Regions from separate parts of the Homo sapiens genome. Here region 2 is linked to region 1. Evidence: fine-mapped expression QTL. A gene starts in region 1. The other region holds a variant in brackets. All regions are shown on one strand. Distances are from middle to middle. Region 1 holds the start of ETF1 (eukaryotic translation termination factor 1). Region 2 overlaps ETF1 (eukaryotic translation termination factor 1).

Region 1 (8,957 bases):
TGCAGTGGCGGAATCCCGGCTCACTGCAACCTACGCCTCCAAGGTTCAAGCATTTCTCCTGCCTCAGCCTCCCGAGTAGCTGGGATTACAGGTGCAAGCCACCACACCCAGCTCATTTTTGTATTTTTAGTAGAGACAGGGTTTCACCATGTTGGCTAGGCTGGTCTTGAACTCCTGACCTCAAGTGATCCACCCACCTTGGCCTCCCAAAGTGCTGGGATTACAGGTGTGAGTCAACGTGCCCAGTCCTCATGTGGCCTATTAATTTGTCTAACCAACAGTTTGGGGGAAGGGAGGCATGGAAAGAGCCAGAATAGAGGACAAAAAAAGTCTTCTTTATGAGCCTGAACTTTAAATGGTTCAGGTATTTGTATCAAAGACCACAATGTATCATTTTAGCTACAACCAGCCCTTCAACGATAGTGAGGGAAAAAAAAAAAGAATGTGAAATTCAGTGCTTTGAGAATATTATTTCCACCACCATTTAGGTGAATATTCTATTAACCAACAATGTTTACTTGGGGAAGGTACTCAAACACATCCAACATACCTTAATTTATTCAAAGTATATAAATTAAGCAATCTGTTCATATTAATTATCTCTAAGATTTAAAACATTAACCTATTCAATGATCTCGCCAAAACACTGTTAAATCTATATAATGTGAGGAATTCAGTGGGGATTCTTTAAAAATGGTTATATTTGGGGGCAGGAACAACCAATTTTATTTCATTTAGAATTAAGATATCAACAAGTTATTTTTAAGTAAACAGTTTTTAAAATGTCCAAACACTACAGCAGAAGTTTGCAAGCTCACTGACCTTCAAACAAGGGTTATGGTTATGAGGGTTATCTGACCAAGTGTTCATTGGATAAGAAACACATAAGGTTTCCTAGTGAAGATAAGTGAAGACATTTTAACACCCACAGACACAACCTAACCCAAATTAACACTGTCCATTCCTTTGTCACATTCACCACTGTCCCTGGCTAGCACAGGCTCTAGTTATGATTTTATTAACATTACCTTAAAACTATAAGGTGTCCAACATTATTTCTGAGGCCACCTCTTGCCTGCTCAGAAAACACCAAGGGAAAAAACAACCAATAATTCTCCCCCTTTTTCCAACATACGTTGACCTGTTTTAGTTCCTTATTCAAGATACCCTCAACCACAGTATTGGTTTATGTATACATTTGTCCTTCATAAGCCAACTGTGGAGCATATACCAGGAGCAATCATGAACAGGGAAGAACTACCATCAACTTTAAGTGGGGCCTATGTCTACCAAAATAATTAACTGGTTATTTTACTAGCACACACAAACTAACATTCGACCAGGCTTATCTGAAACCAAATAAGCATGTTCTACCCAAATCAAAAATCAAGTTTATGTGTGACACTCCTTTCAACTCAGAAGATTAAGTATGATGCTGGTTACAAAACAGAATGCTATGAAGTTCCCCATTTTAGTAATGTGGCCTCTATAAATGCTCTTCTACACACGTGTAACATAAAATAGAATCTGTTATAGCTCAGACTACATTTTAAGGAAATCTAGTTTTGTATTTTCTGAAAATAAAATATACCCATTATAGCACATTGGTTTAAGTTCTGAACTCTGCTACATTTTTGCTGTGACATCTTGGACAAATTATCTCTTAGCCTCAGGTGCCTTGTCTACCAAATGGTGGCAATACTTGTGAGGATTAAATGACTTAATAATGTACTGTAGCACAGTCTATAATATAGTATGTGCTTAATAAATTATTTTGCCAACATACTTCCCTTTATTCAGATGTAGTTAGTGAGCCCATTTTGCAGGTGGTTCCTTTTTCAAGCTACATTAAATTTGGGTCATATATCAAGAGATAACCACATAGGATTATCTTAATTTCAAAATCACTCTTATTCTAGCATATTTTAATAACTACTGTTAAAAACAAATCCATGATTCCTATGCCTAGAATTCTACACTGCTAAGGGGAGGAAAGGGCTTTTTCATTTCCAAAACAATACTGTTACTCAACCACTAAGTCTCACTACCTTGTCCTAATAACCATGCCTGAAAACCTCAGTTTCCTCCTGAAAACCAGAGTATCCCCAAAACATCAGCAAATACAGATTCATTTTGCCATCCACTTAAGTCTTTAAAGCCCATTACAATTCTTCTAAAGATATTTTATCACTAGGTAAAGTAGGAATAACATTTTCCACTGTACCCTATCTATGAAAATCTAGAGTCTGACTTTAACACAAGTTGGCAATGAAAATATTCCCACCTCCAAAAACTGGTATATACTGGGGAATCTTCTGACTCCCTTACCAATACTCAGAGATGGCCAAGATTTTAAATTTCCATGGGATCAAGATGCAACCAAATCCTGATTAAAAGCAAAGTAGGACATGATTATTAACCACAATGTGTAGCGGAAGGTCCTCCAGCTATTTTAGACAGCTTAATCATGTCTGAAATATCCAAACTCAACAACTTGAAATACAAGTTGTGTCTTATAACTTCATTTTTAGCATGCTTTAAACTTTACTGAACTTTGCTAAACAAAGAGGTAAAGCCTTCAAAAGCCTTAAAGAGGCGCTTAAAAGTTTCTAGTGGCTAGGTAACATGGGTAGAACAAATTTAAGAATGAGTTTCCTTCATTAAGCAGTAGAAAGGAATGCTGTTACTTATTAAGCAATGTCATCTTCAATGTTACTTCATTCAAACAGGCAAATTATAGTCATGATTTAATTTTTTGGACTGTTTCAGAGAATATAACGTATGCAAATTAAAATGTGTAAACCTGCCTGCTACTGAAAGCAGTAAGAACAAATCCAGAGGTCACATCCACCTATATACAATACTGCAACAACAGCAATCTATAAAATGCAATACTGGATTGAAGGCTTCAAGTAACAAAACAAGATCCTACTGAAACAAAAGAACCTGGCTAATTCTTGGTAGTGCAACATAATGGGTCGTGACCTATGTTACCCTTTCTGTACAGTATTCTCACATTTTGGGAATAACTGGTCACTCTATCATACGGCACAAGTTCCTGTAAGATCATTAAGAAGGTCTGGATATTCTATTGAATTCAAAGAAAAACCTAAGGACTAACAAGCCGCTGTCTTCGATTCATATTAAACTAACGTTTCTCCAGTAAACCGAAGGAGTGAGCACAAGCCCGTCACTGAATGGGGCCAAACTTTTAGAAGCCTCATTCCAAACAGAACTGTCCCTAATTTATTAAGAACAAAACACTAGTAAAACCAACCTGTGAATTGGGCCTTCAGTACAATTAAGCACATCCTGTTTCATATAACAGTAATAATGAAGAGCTTGGAGGGGCTGTCATTCTAAAATTGCAAATCTACCCATAAATGACAATCCTGGGCTGGAAACCAGAATGTCAAATTCTTGTGCTGAAATCAACTTTTCACATGGCCTGAGGCAGGCCATTCTACTATTCTAAGAATGCTCAGACATACAAGTATGTAATAATGTTCCAAACACTTTTTTTTGGGGGGGGGGGCACTTCCTGTAAGTAAAAAGTTTCTATGACTGGGAAAGGAACAAAATAAAGTAATAAAAGAAACAGGAATACCCCTGGCACACCTTCCTCAAACGAACAACGTTAAAAAAAAAAGAAAACACACACACACAGCTAATTTTAATCTAGCCTACTCTCCCCCCAATGGACACACCTACAGTTTCTTATCAAAATGTACAAGACTCAAAGCCCATTTAATTCAATTATGAATCTCACTCAACAAGCATCAAGCACATCAGGCGCCTCTCTACAGCGATATCCCCACAAGTTTCAGAGAAATGCCAGCAGGGACTCTGTAGTTATGATTCCTATCAAACGGCCCCCTAACCCGTATTTCTCCTGGACATACACATGCAGATTCATTAACCAAAACCTACCCAGCACCCCTCACATCGCGCGTACGTTGGCATTTTCAGTTTATAGGTGGGTCCTGGAACAGCTAAAACCAGGAAGCTCCGGGGTAATTAGAGGACTTGGGAGAAGTCATCTTGGGACAGGTGGAAGACCCAGAGAAATCAGGAATCAGAAAGAAGCTGTCCCTGGCCACCTCTGCTTCCCGTCCCATCCAAACTTCACCCACCCGGGTCTCAGAAGCCCAGAAGGGAGAGGCCATTTTAATGAGGCCTGGCTGAGAAATGAAGGGAGAAGAGGAAATCAGGGAAGGGCCCTGGGAAAGGAAGGCCGAACACTTTGCCACAATAGCACCCGAGTCGGGTGGCAGCACCTGGAGCCCGAAGAGGGAGGACCTGGACTTAAGGGCCCGGGAGAGGTGCAAAAGTAGCGGTGGCCTACCACGAGGGGGGCCGAGTGATCTAAACCGGGGAGCGCGGGCCCCTTACCCCCATGCGGGGAAAGGACCCCTTCTCGGGCCAACCGCGCCGACCCTCGCCCCTGGGTCAGGGGCTACTACCCAGAGATCCAGAAGGCGGGAGTTGGCTAGTGCCTGGTTCTCCTCATCCGGCCATGCGGCGCGGGGGCGTCCATCCTGAGGGGTCCGGGAACCAAGAGGGCACGGAGGGTGCCGGACGCGGCGCTCACCCGCGGGCCGCCTCCAAGCTCTTAATGAGCTTCTTGATCTTCCAGATCTCCACGTTCCTGTCGGCAGCACTGGGGTCGTCCGCCATCTTCTCGCCTCCTCCTCCCTAGAGCGGCCCGGCGGGGCCCGGAGACACCAAGACCACAGAGTTAGCGCCGCCGCTGGGGCAGAGCGGCCCCCTTCCTCGCCATCCCCCAGAGGCCCTCTCCTCCCGTCCGGTGCAGCTCGCCACAAAGGTCACCGGCCTTTCCCTCCCTGTGCCTTACCTAAGGGCCCAGTCCTGGGCGGCAGCGGCTGCTCCTCCCCGGCGGCGGCTCCGCGGCGGCGGCGGCTCTGACGTAGGACACCGGCTCCCTCTCTCCAGGCAGCTGCATGTGTTGCAATCCGCTCACATGGGGCCTGTGACATCACTTCCTCCGCCAGGGGCGGAGTGGAAGGCGGCAGGCGGAAGGGAGGGGGCCGGTGCGAGTGAGGAGAAGCTGGGCGTCCGCCGCGACTTCTCATTGGCTCTCTGCCCCGCAGCCTACAATGAGCCCGCCGATTGGCTGCAGCTGGGTCCGCGCCGCCTTGTGAGGTAAGGCTGGGGGGTGGGAGGTGCCACCTTTCTTCCGGCCCGGCAAGGCGAGAGGAGGAAGCGGGCGGAAGCCGGTGGCTCTCGCGAGTTTACTGAGAGCCCCCGTCAGGCTCGAATGGGGGTGGTTCTTAAAGAGAGAGGACCGGGGTCGTCGTCTTTTCAGTCCATTCTCCTTGAATAGGGTGGACATCTGAGGCTTTGCGACTCGAAGCTAGGCACTTGGGCCCGACGCGCGGTTTGAACGGTGCTTGAGAAGCCGCGAAGAAGCGCCTCGCGCTCAGCGGCTTCTTCGCTGACGAAGTGCTGCGGTCTGCGTGCGTCATGGCTGCACGGAATAGTGTGGAGGAGTCCTGGCCAGTAGGTCTGGATGAGGAACCTGCCTCCGGGCGGTCCGGGACCCTCACCTGCAGGGGCGAAAGAGGCCTGTTTTCTCTCGCCCCAGAGCTAGGACGGGCTCACTTTGGACTTAGAACTTTATGGGGTGGAAGACAGCGGGGGCTGCCTGAGCTTGGAGACCTGAGGTATCTGGTCCCATGTATGATTTGGCCTGAGCCGTTGAGAATGGGGGTGGAGAGAGTTGAAACAAAATGGGCATCCACATACGGTTAGAACTTTATCTTTTTGAGTTAGGATTTTTAGGTGGCTACTTTGTCCCCCCTCACCTCGTCTGGGTTCAAATATTGAGCCCAGACCGTGTGCTGGACCCTGTTTTCCTGGGGATACAGAGGTGAACCAAACAGATGACAGTACTTACCCTTATGGAGCTTATAGTCGATTGGGTTTTTAAGTTTGTGATTTTATACTTTTTGTAATAAAATAATTACACAAATGCTTAAGTACTTCAGGGTGCTCTGAGAGTGTATGGCGGGGACCCAGCTCTGAAATGAGACCCAAAGGATGATTAAGAGTTTGTCAGGAGGAAACAGAATACAGTTGAGAACTACAGAAACGCCAGTGTGCTGGCACAAGGTCAGGGACGGGGAGAGTGGTTTGAGGGAGCAGCAGGGGAAGAGGTCATGTAGGGTCTTTTAAGCCAGATTCAGAAGTTTGGTTTCTTTCAAGAACAGTGGGTAGTTTAAAGGGTTTAGAGCCCTGGTGTGGACTGGAGAGAGTACAGGAGAAGCCCAGAGACCATTTTGGCTGCTTCATTATCATGTGAGAGATGATTTTCGCTTACATTAGGGTGGTGACAGTGCAGATAGAAGTGAATGAAGGGCCTGGTGCAGTGGCCCACGGCTGTAATCCCAGCACTTTGGGAGGCCAAAGGGGAGGATCGCTTGAGCCCAGGAGTTTGCGAGCAGCCTGGGCAACATGGCAAGATTCCGTCTCTACAAAATTACAAAATATTAGCCTGGTGTGGTGGCCCGCGCCTGTAGTCCCAGCTGCTTGGGAGGCTGAGGTGGGAGAAACCCTTGAGCCGAGGAATTCGAGGCTGCAGTGAGCTGAGATCACACCACTACACTCCAGCCTGGGTGACAGAGCGAGACCTTGTCTCGAGGAAAAAAAAAAAGTGAATAGGACTGGATGATGGATTGGTTGAGGAAAACCAAGAATGGTTCCCAGAGTACTGAAGTGGTGACATTTACTGAGGTGGGAAAGGTGAGGAGTAGGTGTTGGGGGATGATTGAGAATTTCATCTTGGGCCTGTTAAGTTTGAGATTGCTTATGAGACATGTAAGTAGGGATGTCCGTCATGCGCTTTCATTTGTATGGTTTTTGAATACTTTTTGCATGTGTTATAAACTGTGTCCACACTTTGAAGATGGGGGTATGACCTCCATTTCATACATGGGGAAACTGAGGCAAAGAAAAGTGAAAGGGATCTGCTCAGAGTCCACAGCTAGTTTATGGCTTCCCGACTCCATTTTTGGAGTCCAGTGTATTATACAGTGACCCCATTACCTGTATTTTCATAGGGTGGGGACACGGTCATACTTCTGTCCCCCAGGAAATGAATCTCAGGTTGGAACCTCTTCTTTGGGTTCCATTTTGTAGTTTTTGGCATATGTTTATTTGTTATATAATATTGTACTCCTGCTGTGTGTGTGTCATTCACTGTGTTTAGTAGTGAACGGAGGGGTCTTCTTAGTCATAAACACTGCTTACTGACTAGGAATCAACTGTGTCCAAGGTTTTCCTTCATTCCTCTTGCCCTGGTTCCTCCTTTCTATATTAGATTGCCCTACTCTACCCTTCCTGTTCTTTTTTTTTTTTTTTTTAAAGACGGAGTCTCCCTTTGTCGCCCAGGTTGGAGTGCAGTGGCACGATCTTGGCTCACTGCAACCTCCACATCCCGGGTTCAAGCGATTCTTCTGCGGCAGCCTCCTGAGTAGCTGGGACTACAGGCGGGTGCCACCATGCCCAGCTAATTTTTTGTATTTTTATTAGAGTCGGGGTTTCACCGTGTTAGCCAGGATGGTCTCGATCTCCTGACCTCGTGATCTGCCTGCCTCGGCCTCCCAAAGTGCTGGGATTACAGGCGTGAACCACCATGCCGGGCCAGTTTTTGTATTTTTTATTTTTTATTTTTTTTTTAGCAGAGACAGGGTTTCACCATGTTGGCCAGGCTGATCTTGAATTCCTGACCTCAGGTGATCCACCTGCCTCCGCTTCCCAAAGTGCTGGGATTACATGCGTGAGCCACCACACCTGGCCTCCTCTTCCTTTTGATGTTTGTGTTTACAGCATTGCTTCAGGTCCATGCTTGAAGGCTTTCTTCTGTGTGATTCAGGCTGAAGTAAGCATGACGACATCCCAAGTAGGATTGCTGTTTTCAGCCTCTGAATTCTTAAAACTTATTTCTTAGACAATTGCAGGCCCAGGTAGCCCCAAAAGCTCCTTGCCTAGTTGCTGCAAATTCACCATCTCTGCATTTAGAATTAGAAATCAGTGCATTAGAGGCAAAGGCTGGGATAACTATCTACGTGAAGAGGTTTGGGATGTATGAAGCACGGATGGTAGTGCCTGCATCAAGGCTTTTTAAATGGGACCATGACGATTCATTGTTGAGGAATGTTCTGTGATATAAAAGTGATACAGATTTTTCAAACTGCTAAATGGTGAGAACAAAATATATAACCTCTCTAGGCACACAGATTCTCTGAAAAATAAAGGAATTGTTCTTTATGATCTCAGAACTTCCTCCTCAGCTCAAACATTATGTAACAAAGTTAAATATTGGGATATAGGTGATGTTCCTACCTAATTAGGTGGGAGTAGGCAAGTAAGTTTTTGTTTCATTTTCTTTTTTTTTTTTGAGGCAGGGTCTCACTGTTGCCCAGGCTGGAGTACAGTGGTACGATAATAACTCACTGCAACCTTGACCCCAGGACTTAAGCGATCCTTCCACCTCAGCCTCCCTAGTAGCTGGGACCACAGGCGTGGGCCATGATGCCTGGCTAATTTTTGTATTTTTAGTAGAGATGGGGGTTTCACCATGTTGCCCAGGCTGATCTCGAACTCCTGACCCCACGTGACCCACCTGCCTCAGCCTCCCTAGTAGCTGGGACCACAGGCGCAGGCCATGATGCCTGGCTAATTTTTGTATGTTTAGTAGAGATAGGGGTTTCACCATGTTGCCCAGGCTGATCTCGAACTCCTGACCTCACGTGACCCACCTGCCTCAGCCTCCCAAAGTGTTGGGATTACAGGCCTGTTATAAGTTTTGATGTTGAAAGCACAAATAAGTCTTTGTGCTTAGAGAGAACTGGTCTCTACAAAAACAAGAAAAAAAAATCAGCCAGGCACAGCAGCATGTGCCCCTAGTGCCAGCTACTGAGGAGGCTGAGGCAGGA
Region 2 (9,915 bases), 38 kb before region 1:
TCAACAATAAAAATGAACATGCAACAGGCTGGGCATGGTGACTCACACCTGTAATCCTAGCACTGGGAGGCTGAGGCGGGAGGATCACTTAGAGCTAGGAGTTCAAGACCACCCTGAGCAACATAAGGAGACCCCATCTCTATAAAAAATATATATATATACAAAAAATAGCCTGACATGGTGGTGTAATCCCAGCTACTTGGGAGGCTGAGGCGAGAGAATCACTTGAGCTCAGGAGATCAAGGCTGCAGTGAGCTGTTATTGAGCCACTGCACTCCAGCCTAGGTGACAGAGTGAGACTCCATCTCAAAAAAAAAAAAAAGAAAGAAAGATAGGATAGATGTATCTCAAAAATTTATCTAAATGAAAGAAGCTTCACATAAAAGACTACATGTTGTGCTTTTCCATTAATATAAAAATTTCTAGGAAGGCCAGAACTGTAGAGGTAGAAAGCAGATCAGTAGCAGCTGGGCGTGGTGGCTAATGCCTATAATCCCAGCACTTTGGGAGGCCAAGGTGGGCAGATAACATGAGGCCAGGAGTTTGAGACCAGCCTGGCCAACATGGTGAAACCTCGTCTCTACTAAAAATAGCAAAATTAGCTGGGCGTGGTGGCAGGCACCTATAGTCCTAGTTACTCAGGAGGCTGAGGCATAAGAATTGCTTGAACCCGGGAGGCGGAGGTTTCAGTGAGCTGAGATCGCGCCACTGCACTCCAGCCTGGGCGACAGAGCAAGGCTCTGTCTCCAAAAATAAAAAATAAAAAAAAAACAAAGCAAGTAGATTGATCAGTAGTTGCCCAGGGTTGGATGTGGGAACAGAGATTGACTGCAAAAGAGCACAAATAATCTTTTTGGGATGCTGAACATTAAGTTGTGAGTTGTGGGATGTTTACATAACTATACAAATTTACTTTTTTTTTTTTTTTTTTGAGACAGAGTCTCACTGTCACCCAGGCTGGAGTGCAGTGGTGGGATCTTGGCTCACTGCAGCCTCCACCTTCCGGGATCAAGATATTAGAGGCCAGGCGTGTAGGCCTGGCCTACACACATTTACTTTTAAAAATAAATAGCCAAACTATACCTACAGTGGGTTAATTTTATAGTTTGTAAATTATACCTCAATAAAGCTGTTAATAAACAAACCACAGAAATGACAGCAGGATGAAAAAACCAGTGTCCTAGCCGGGCACGGTGGCTCACACCTGTAATCTCAGCACTTTAGGAGTCCAAGGCGGGCGGATCACGAGGTCAGGAGATCGAGACCATTCTGGCCAACATGGTGAAACCCTGTCTCTACTAAAAATACAAAAATTAGCCAGGTGTGATGGCGCACGCCTGTAGTCCCAGATACTCGGGAGGCTGAGGCAGGAGAATCACTTGAACCCAGGAGGTGGAGGTTGCAGTGAGCCGAGGGCACGCCACTGCACTCCAGCCTGGCAACACAGAGAGACTCTGTCTCAAAAAAAAAAAAAAAAAAAAAAAAAAAAAAAAAAAAAAAGAAAGAAAGAAAAAGAAAAAAGAAAAGAAAAGAAAAGAAAAGAAAAAACAGTGTCCTGAAATCTGAATGTCTTCCTGGCCTTTGGATCCAGTCAGGACTGATCCACGTGCCTCTCCAAACTCACCCTCTCATCTCTCCAGCTAACCCAGGTCCCCACATAGACCTAGCACCCCCAGAGGAGGAAGGAGCCACCCTGCACTCCCCTTGTCCTTTAACACTCATTGTCATTCCTTGTTCAGAGTCTCCACTGCTGGACCTTCAACACCGAAGGGCAGGGTGTGCACCTGCACTGTTTGCCACTGAATCTTGCACGGGACCTAGTACACGGGACATGTCTAAATGCTTGCTGAGTCAAGGAATGAGACTGGCTTAACCCAAGTCTCATTTAAGGAATAGAGGTGGCCGTGGAGTGCGTCTGTGGAGAAGGCTGGAGGAGACTGGGGTAGAACTCCTTCCATGTTACCTTTCAGAATCAGAGCCCGACAGGGGTGCAAGGGAGGGCCTCTAGCCCTGAGCACAGAAATTCGTCTTTATCTGGAGGAGCAACTCTCTCCCAGGCAACATCCTGCCTTATTACAAAGAGTCCCCCTCTGCAGGCCCTCCAGGCCCACCCCAGCTGGCTCATGTTGCCTTTCCCCACCAGAGAGCCTAGGCTGGGCATGTCTTTGGGTCTGGACAGTAATACAACATGGGGCAGAGGGTCCTGGCATCATCAAGCCCTGATTTCTCCTCATGCCTTCTCCCAGGAATCGGAATATCTCTGCATCTTTGCCTCTCAGAAGATCCTTGCCATTCCTGCTCGGAGCCTTTCTCTCAAGTTTCCACCCTCCTTCCTTATTCTCCTGGCTTCCTTGGAAATGGGTTTGCCCTCTAGCTTTGAGTGGGGATGGACAGGCAAGCAGAAGGGGCTAAGCCTAGGTATAGTATCTCAGCAGAGTGGGAGGAGCTGGAAGTCTGTGGCAGTCAGGGAGAGCTAGATGGGGCTAATTTGGAAGGCCGGGGGCTGAAGAAGCAAGTTGATCCACACACCCAAGCCAACCTTGACTCACAGGGAAGTGACTTCAAACAGCTTTCATAACTCCATCTGGATGTTGGCCACCTTTCCTCTCCTAGCTCTTTGGTTTCAGGCCACGTGCTCCCTCCAATTGTCCCTTCTCTCATTTATAACATTAGAGAGAACAGGGCCTGGATGAAGAATAACAAGATCATCCGGCTGTTAAGAGCACCGAATCTGGAGTTGGAGCAAGTGTTCATGTTGGCTCTGCTAATTTGCTGCATGAGCCTGACAGGTCACTATATTCCTCTCTGGCCTCAGCTTTCTTCTGTCTTTAGTGAGGGGATTGGAATAGGTAAGGTGCAAGACCCTTTCTAGTGCTAAAATTAAGGGGCCCGGCACAGTGGCACACACCTGGAATTCCAACACTTTGGGAGACAGAGGCGGGCCAATCACTTGAGCTCAGGAATTCAAGACCAGCCTGGGGAGGCTGGGCACAGTGGCTCACGCTTGTAATCCCAGCACTTTGGGAGGCTGAGGCGGGCGGATCACAAGGTCGGGAGATCAACACCATCCTGGCTAACACGGCGAAACCCTGCCTCTACTAAAAAAACAAAAACAAAAAATTAGCCGGGCGTGGTGGCTGGCGTCTGTGGTCCCAGCTACTCAGGAGGCTGAGGCAGGAGAATGGCATGAACCTGGGAGGCAGAGCTTGCAGTGAGCCGAGATCGCACCCCTGCACTCCAGTCTGGGTGACAGAGCAAGACTCCATCTCAAAAAAAAAAAAACACCCAGGCTGGGCAACATGGCGAAACCTCATCTCTACAAAAACAACAAAAAACCAAAAATTAGCCAGGTGTGGTGGTGTGTGCCTGCAGTCCCAGCTACTCGGGAGGCTGAGGTGGGAGGATCGCTTGATCCTGGGAGGTTGAGGCTGTAGTGAGCCAAGACTGCACCACTGCATTCCAGCTTGGGTGACAGAGTAAGACCCTGTCTCAAAAAAAAAAAAAAAAATTAGGTGCTAAAATTATAATTCCTTAAGAAGTCTAAGTATTGGGTATTGTGGAGAAAAGCTATATAAAGGTATGGCTGTAGACTAAGGACTAGAGTCGAATGAGACTCTTTCTGAGAGTCCTTTCTGAGAATGGGCTTGACATTCCCAGGTACAGCTTTGCCTTCTTCTCATCACTTCCAGGATTGCTCACCTACTTGGGGCCAAGGGCCCCCCAGGAAGCCCTTCTTCATGCTGTTTTATTTCACTCTGTAGGGATGACCTGCATTTGCACTGGCTTTGGAACCAAACAGACCTGACTTTGAGTCCCAGATTTTGCCACTTAGTAGAACGTGGATGGGAAGATATAAACAGCATCTCCCTCACTACGTTTTTCTAAGGATTACATAACTGTTCAACAAATGTCAGTGACTATAGTTACTTCACAGACGGATAGCTCAAAGCCCAGAATAAGGAGTAAGAAAACTGGGCAGAGCTGGATTGAGACTCCTGGGATCTCCTCTCCGTTCACTCATCCCTACTCCTTTGTTAAACTGCCCTCTCCACTTTCCTAAAATTTAAGGGCAAAGCAAGTTGTCCCAGGCACCTCTTAATGCTTGTCAGAAATCCCCCCTACTTCAGATGAAGCAAATTTCTTCCAGTCAGCATCCTTAACTCTATACCACCACCTTGTGGTCACCAGCACAAACTTTCCCTGGCCACTTCCAGAGGACCAAGGTTGGGAGAGGAAGAACCATGAGTAGCTGCCATCCCAGTCCTTGCTAAGTGCCTTCATGTGCCTTACTCCATTTAATCCTTATTACAGGTGGTGAAACTGCTACTCAAAGACATGGAATAATTTGCCAGCCTCTCAGGTGGCGCCAGGATTTCTACCTCAGACCTCAGAGATCCTGCTTCCTACTGCACTCTCCTGATAGCTTCCTGGGAAGCTGGCTGGCACGGCACTTCAGATTCAGGGACTGCCTGATACTGTGAAGTCACAAACCCAGTTAACTGCAGAGCCAGAGCCTTTTTTTCTTTTTTTCGAGACAGTCTCTCTGTCGCCCAGGCTGGAGTGCAGTGGTGCCATCTCGTCTCACTGCAACCTCTGCCTCCCAGGTTCAAGCAATTCTTGTGCCTCAGCCTCCTGAGTAGCTGGGATTACAGGCGCCCACCACCTGTTCGGCTAGTTTTTGTAATTTCAGTAGAGACGGGGTTTCACCATGTTGGTCAGGCTGGTCTTGAACTCCTGACCTCGGGTGATCCACCTGCCTTGGCCTCCTGAAGTGTTGGGTTTACAGGCGTGAGCCATGGTGCCCAGCAGAACCAGAGCTTTTCTTGACTCCCTTGTTTGGTT[C/T]TGGGCTCTTAGCTAAGCCCCAGGTAAGCCTGCCAGTTTCAGGGAAGGACTCCTGGAGATGGCTGTATCTGAAACAGAATTCACCAGACAGGGTTTTAGACTTGATTTACAGAGAACCCTTTAGGTGGTGAATTGTTTTCACCTGTTATTTCTAGTGCCTGCTATTCAGCCACATCCTCAGCAACTTGCAGCACCCAAACTGCCACAAAACAAGCAAGTAACTGTGCCCTGCTTCCCTAGCTCTAATCGGATGCTCCCACACCACTTGGCTGTTCAGTTCCTAGGTCCCCTGAGACCCAGTCCCATCAGGGCTGGACTTGGCAGGCAGGAATCCCCTGGCATTCACTCAAGCTGGCAACAAAGGAGAAGCTGGCATGAAACTTAAATTCCACCTTGGCTCTCAGCCCTAAATCCACCGTGCCTGTCTGGGAGTGTCATGGCATGCGTCTTGGAGCCAGAGAACAAAAGATGGCAAGTGCTGCAGGCCCAGACAGGCAAGGACCACAGCCCATATATCCTGCACCACTGTGCTGCCTTCCAACAATTTTGTCTTCAAGAACAGCACCTAGACACGCATTAGGAGGGAAAATTACACTTCCACCAGCACAGGCATGTTCGCCCCTTCCCAGCTGGTAATTGAGTTTCGTCGTCAGAGCTATCACCTAGATCAGGTAAGAAAATGGGTGAAAAGTACGCCAAGTGCCATTACTGGTCAATTTTACTTAAAACAGTTTTCTCAAACCTGGAGAAAGCAAACCATGCACCACCTTGGCTCCTCAACTAGGCTTCCTAAACTACCAAAGAGGCTCTTTAAGCACCTCAACCTTGGGGGAAAACAAAGAAAACAAATCCTCTTCTGCTCTGAACCTGGCCTAGGAGCCCTGCTCCTCTGGACCAGCCCCTGACCTGCTTTTGGGTGGGCTACTACTCTCCTACCCAGTGTAAGGTATGTAAGATGAAGGAGCGTGGGAGAGAGAGAGGGCCCAGGCCTAGTTTCTGCTATTCCATCTGGACCATTCTATTATAGGACTCAAAGACAGATACAGAGAGAACTTTGGAATAAGGCCTGGGATAAAATTTTGGTGTTATCACTAAAGAGCTGCTACTTAACCTTCTTTTGTTCTGTTTCATCACCTGTAAAATTGGGTACACCATCTACCTCCATGGGATGCTGGGTTATGGGATAATATACTTAACATACCTTAAAAAAAAAAAAAAGCAAGATTCCCTTTGGCATGCATATAGAATGGGGGAGAATACAAATTAGTTTGGCCCCAGCAACCTGAACCTTCTTCTTCTAGCATAACTCTGGGATCATGACCTCAGAAAAACTTTGCATATACCTTTCCATAGACAAATGTAGTAAACACAACTCAAACCCAAGGCTGAAATGCTATTGGCCGTGACTAATCTGAGGTATGCCTTGGAGAACTGTCTCCACAGTTCAGGCCTTTCTAGACCAGTCCTAAAAAATCTCAAGCACACAAAGTATATTCTTAAATATGGTTTAATACTCTTCTCCATTTCTGTACATCACAACACCAAGATTTTGCTGCTTAGTATCTCTCTGCAGAGGCTATAGAGAATGCAAAGGCTACGGTTTTCACCCCCTCTTATATGTGTTTGTATGTGTAAGTGTAATACATATCAATATATATTGATACACACATCAATATATAATGCAATATATATCACCGAAGAGAACACATTGATTAAAGAAATACAAAAATTTGGCATCATTTCCAAACTTAAATAGTAAAAATAAAAACTACAAAAGGAGCTGCATACCCTAAATGTATCATGTGAAACAACAAGCATATTCAAAAATGTAAATTTACATCCAATTTCTCTGGTCTTGTCATATCACATCAGACCCATTTACAATGGCAAAACCCTAAGGTACTGCTGTGAAGAGAGCATGTTTGCTCGCTCTTGGGTGTTCTGCAAACAAATAGCAGAGCCCAAAGCAAAAAAGCCTGTTCCGGTGAAGTCTCCCACGTTGGTGAACACCAAATAATGGACTCTTCTCACAGGGGGTTGAGACATCAGGTTACACATTGACAGACAGTATTTGGACCTCAGAGTACAGTGTGAGAACCAGAAACTTTACATTTAAGACATACTCCCTTCATTCAAGTGAAACAGGATTATTGGAACGATAGGCAGGTCTGTAACCTGGGAACAAGGAGCTGGTTCAGACCAATAAAGCTACGAGTGACTGAATCAAGTCAGTAAAGAACAGCAGTCAGGCACTAAAGTGTTAAAAGTACCCAATTTGAAAACCAAATGCACCCCACTACCCTAGTCAGTGTGGAGGTGATACCAATTGACTTTTAAAACCTTTGGTCCTTCAAAGTCCATTTGGTATACTTTTTTCCATCGCTACCACTGGGCACGTACTATACACTTTGTTCAACTGTCACCACCCTGGGCACGCCATGACCTTGCATATCAGCTGGGTTCAAGTCTGACTTACAGCCCAGCTGTGAAGCATAAGCTTCAGGGTTTCAGGCCAACTTTTGGATCCAACATGGTCTTAAATCCATGGTGCCAGAAGCTGTGTCCCATCCCTTCCCACCCGCCCCTAATTTCTCATGTGAGAAGTGCTTGTAAGTCCCACATTTGAAACAGATGCTCCAACCCCACCAGGAGGTCAGGAGTTTATAATTACATGCAGTCATACATGTCTGTCGTTCCTGTGAAAAACCTTGCAGTTCATTTTAATAAATCAAAACATTCACATAATCTCATGCCATCCAACACAAGGAAAACACATCCACCTCCCTTTTAACAAGGATTGACCCAAGCAAAATAAAATCCTCTTTAAATTTCTTCGCTTCCACTTAAATTGCATGTTTTATTTCTCCCAATCCCAGCAATAGCACAGAAGCCCCATCATATCCATCCCAAACCGGTTTCGAGTAGGTTAAGGTTATAGGGACCCTTGTCAGAACATTGATACAAAGGGCTCCCAAACGCCGGGCACAAATGTGTCTGCAAACAGATGGAAGTAAACAGTGCACTGGCCCAAATGCTTCATGAGTCAGTTTGATTTTGCAATGCAATTTGCATCCTTGAAACTGCCAGTCTGGAGGGGGACGGGGTAGCGTGAGGGAGTGAAGTTGAAAGTGCCTCCTATTAGCTCACCCTTTCAACATTAAACAGAGACCAAGAGAGAAATGGTTCCAACATTTCACCACATATATTTCTTCTTACGCAGTCTAAGCTGAGAATGCCATGTAAATGGGTCACTGCGAAATGCAGCAATTTAATTTTTCTCCAATCAAAATAAGAAACAAACCAGTATGATCTCACTTCTATTAACTTTTGAAGGTTTACAGCAGTTAAAGTATTTTTGCTTCTATGTATGAAGGTTAAAAAAATCATTTTTTTTCATAAAATACAAGAGCAACCAATTTCACCATCCAGTAAAAGTAAAAACTGGGATTCTTTTTTAAATTAGTCCAAAGTGGCGTTTAGGAACTTAGTTGTAGGCTGCTGCGCTGACACCATGACAAACCAAAGTGTAGGGCTGGGTCTGGTTTTGTTTCGGTTTTCTTTTCAATATCCAATGCTCATGGATTAAGTTCTGGAAATGTTCCAATTGTAAGGCAGGGATCTGTTTGGATTCCACCATGGGTATGCTCCTTGGGTTGGATGCTGGAGGGTGAGGCACGTTTTGCCGGACCCATGTCGACTACCTAGTAGTCATCAAGGTCAAAAAATTCATCGTCTCCTCCTTGGTATTCCATTCCCTGGAAATCTACTCGGTACCGCAAGATACCTGGGGAAACAAACCAAAAGGTAAATTACCTGTGTTCATGGGATGGGCATGTGTGTAGGTGGCTGGTAAGGGAATAAGGGAAGCCCTATTCTCTTGCAGAATTGCAGAAAGCAAAGAGGTAATAATAAACATGGGTCCAAATTAGGAACCTGCACCTGCTGCGTCAATCACCTATCCCAGCAGATAATAAGCACCTCACCGGAAGCAGGGCTAGGGCTAGCCAGGAGGGACCTTGACCTGAGACCCTGGTTTTAAGTTTGGTTTGCTGATTTGCTACTCACCTCCAATTCCACCAAATCCTTTCACAAACTGAGACCCTTCTTGTGATTTATCTGTGACAATTTCCAACGTAGCTCCAAATTTTTTATAGTTGTTAGCAAACCATTCCAACAGGGGCATGCTCTCGATAAGCTCATGTTCCTGTCCGGTCTACAGGGATGACCATGAGATACAAAAATGGGGGATTAGGATATATGAAGGCTAATTAGTCCCTCTCACAGCCCCTTGCCCACCTATCACTCTCATCCTCCCATTTATAGGCATGTCTGTGTGTAAAGCTCTGTAAGTCATCTCTGGTTTTGATAACCTAATGGATATCAGCAGAGAAATTCGGATTATTTCAAACAACACTTCTCCTCAGGCTCTACCCTCAGCTATGAAATACCAACACAAAAACTCAGTGGGTATTCAGCTTATGATTCCTACTGTTGACTCTAGAAGTCAGGCTGTTGTAGTGTCTCTAAGCAGCACCCATTCAATGGCTCAGAAGAGACATTCCAGGACTGCTTTTGGGAGTGGCCTCGTAGAGAACAAAGCTCTCCAAACCAGAATTTGAGGAAGCTATCATTTAAACCTATCTCATACGGGAGGGTCATACTTTCAACTGTTGTGATGCACTTAGAGCAAACCAGAGAAGCCACTGCAGTGGAAGAGCTGATCAAGTGAAGAAAGCAGCACAGGTTTCACAGTGCAGGAGAGGCATTATGTAAATTACATTTTCCTCCCTATTAAATTTCAAGGATAATGAAATGTTTTCCTGATTGCTTAACTACTTAAAAACAAAGACAAAAACAAACAAACAAACAAAAACCAGGCCAGGCATGGTGGGTCACGTCTGTAATCTCACCACTCTGGAAAACCAATGTAGGAGGATCACTTGGGCCCAGGAGTTCAAGACCAGCCTGGTGAACACAGCAAGACCCCATTTCTATAAAAAAAATTAGGCTGCCTGGCATGGTGGCTCACGCCTGTAATCCCAGCATTTTGGGAGGCTAAGGCAGGTGGATCAC

The links. PIP is the estimated chance that this variant, and not a neighbour inherited with it, causes the effect.
Region 2: its variant is fine-mapped to the expression of ETF1 in whole blood (INTERVAL, PIP 0.93).

What each region holds. Positions count from the first base shown.
Region 1 is chr5:138,538,242-138,547,198 of GRCh38, forward strand. It overlaps ETF1 (eukaryotic translation termination factor 1), which reads right to left and starts at 4,995. Exons shown (of 11, transcript NM_004730.4): 1 at 4,856-4,995; 2 at 4,592-4,695. The coding sequence starts at 4,677. RefSeq lists enhancers at 4,506-5,705, 4,647-5,436, 5,156-5,555, 5,437-6,226 and a silencer at 4,816-4,865.
Region 2 is chr5:138,499,762-138,509,676 of GRCh38, forward strand. ETF1 (eukaryotic translation termination factor 1) reads right to left here. Exons shown (of 11, transcript NM_004730.4): 10 at 8,908-9,055; 11 at 6,334-8,626. The coding sequence ends at 8,544. Among named protein-coding and RNA genes, the nearest start is that of ETF1, 39 kb to the right of the region's middle. The variant C/T (reference allele first, on the strand shown) is at 4,843.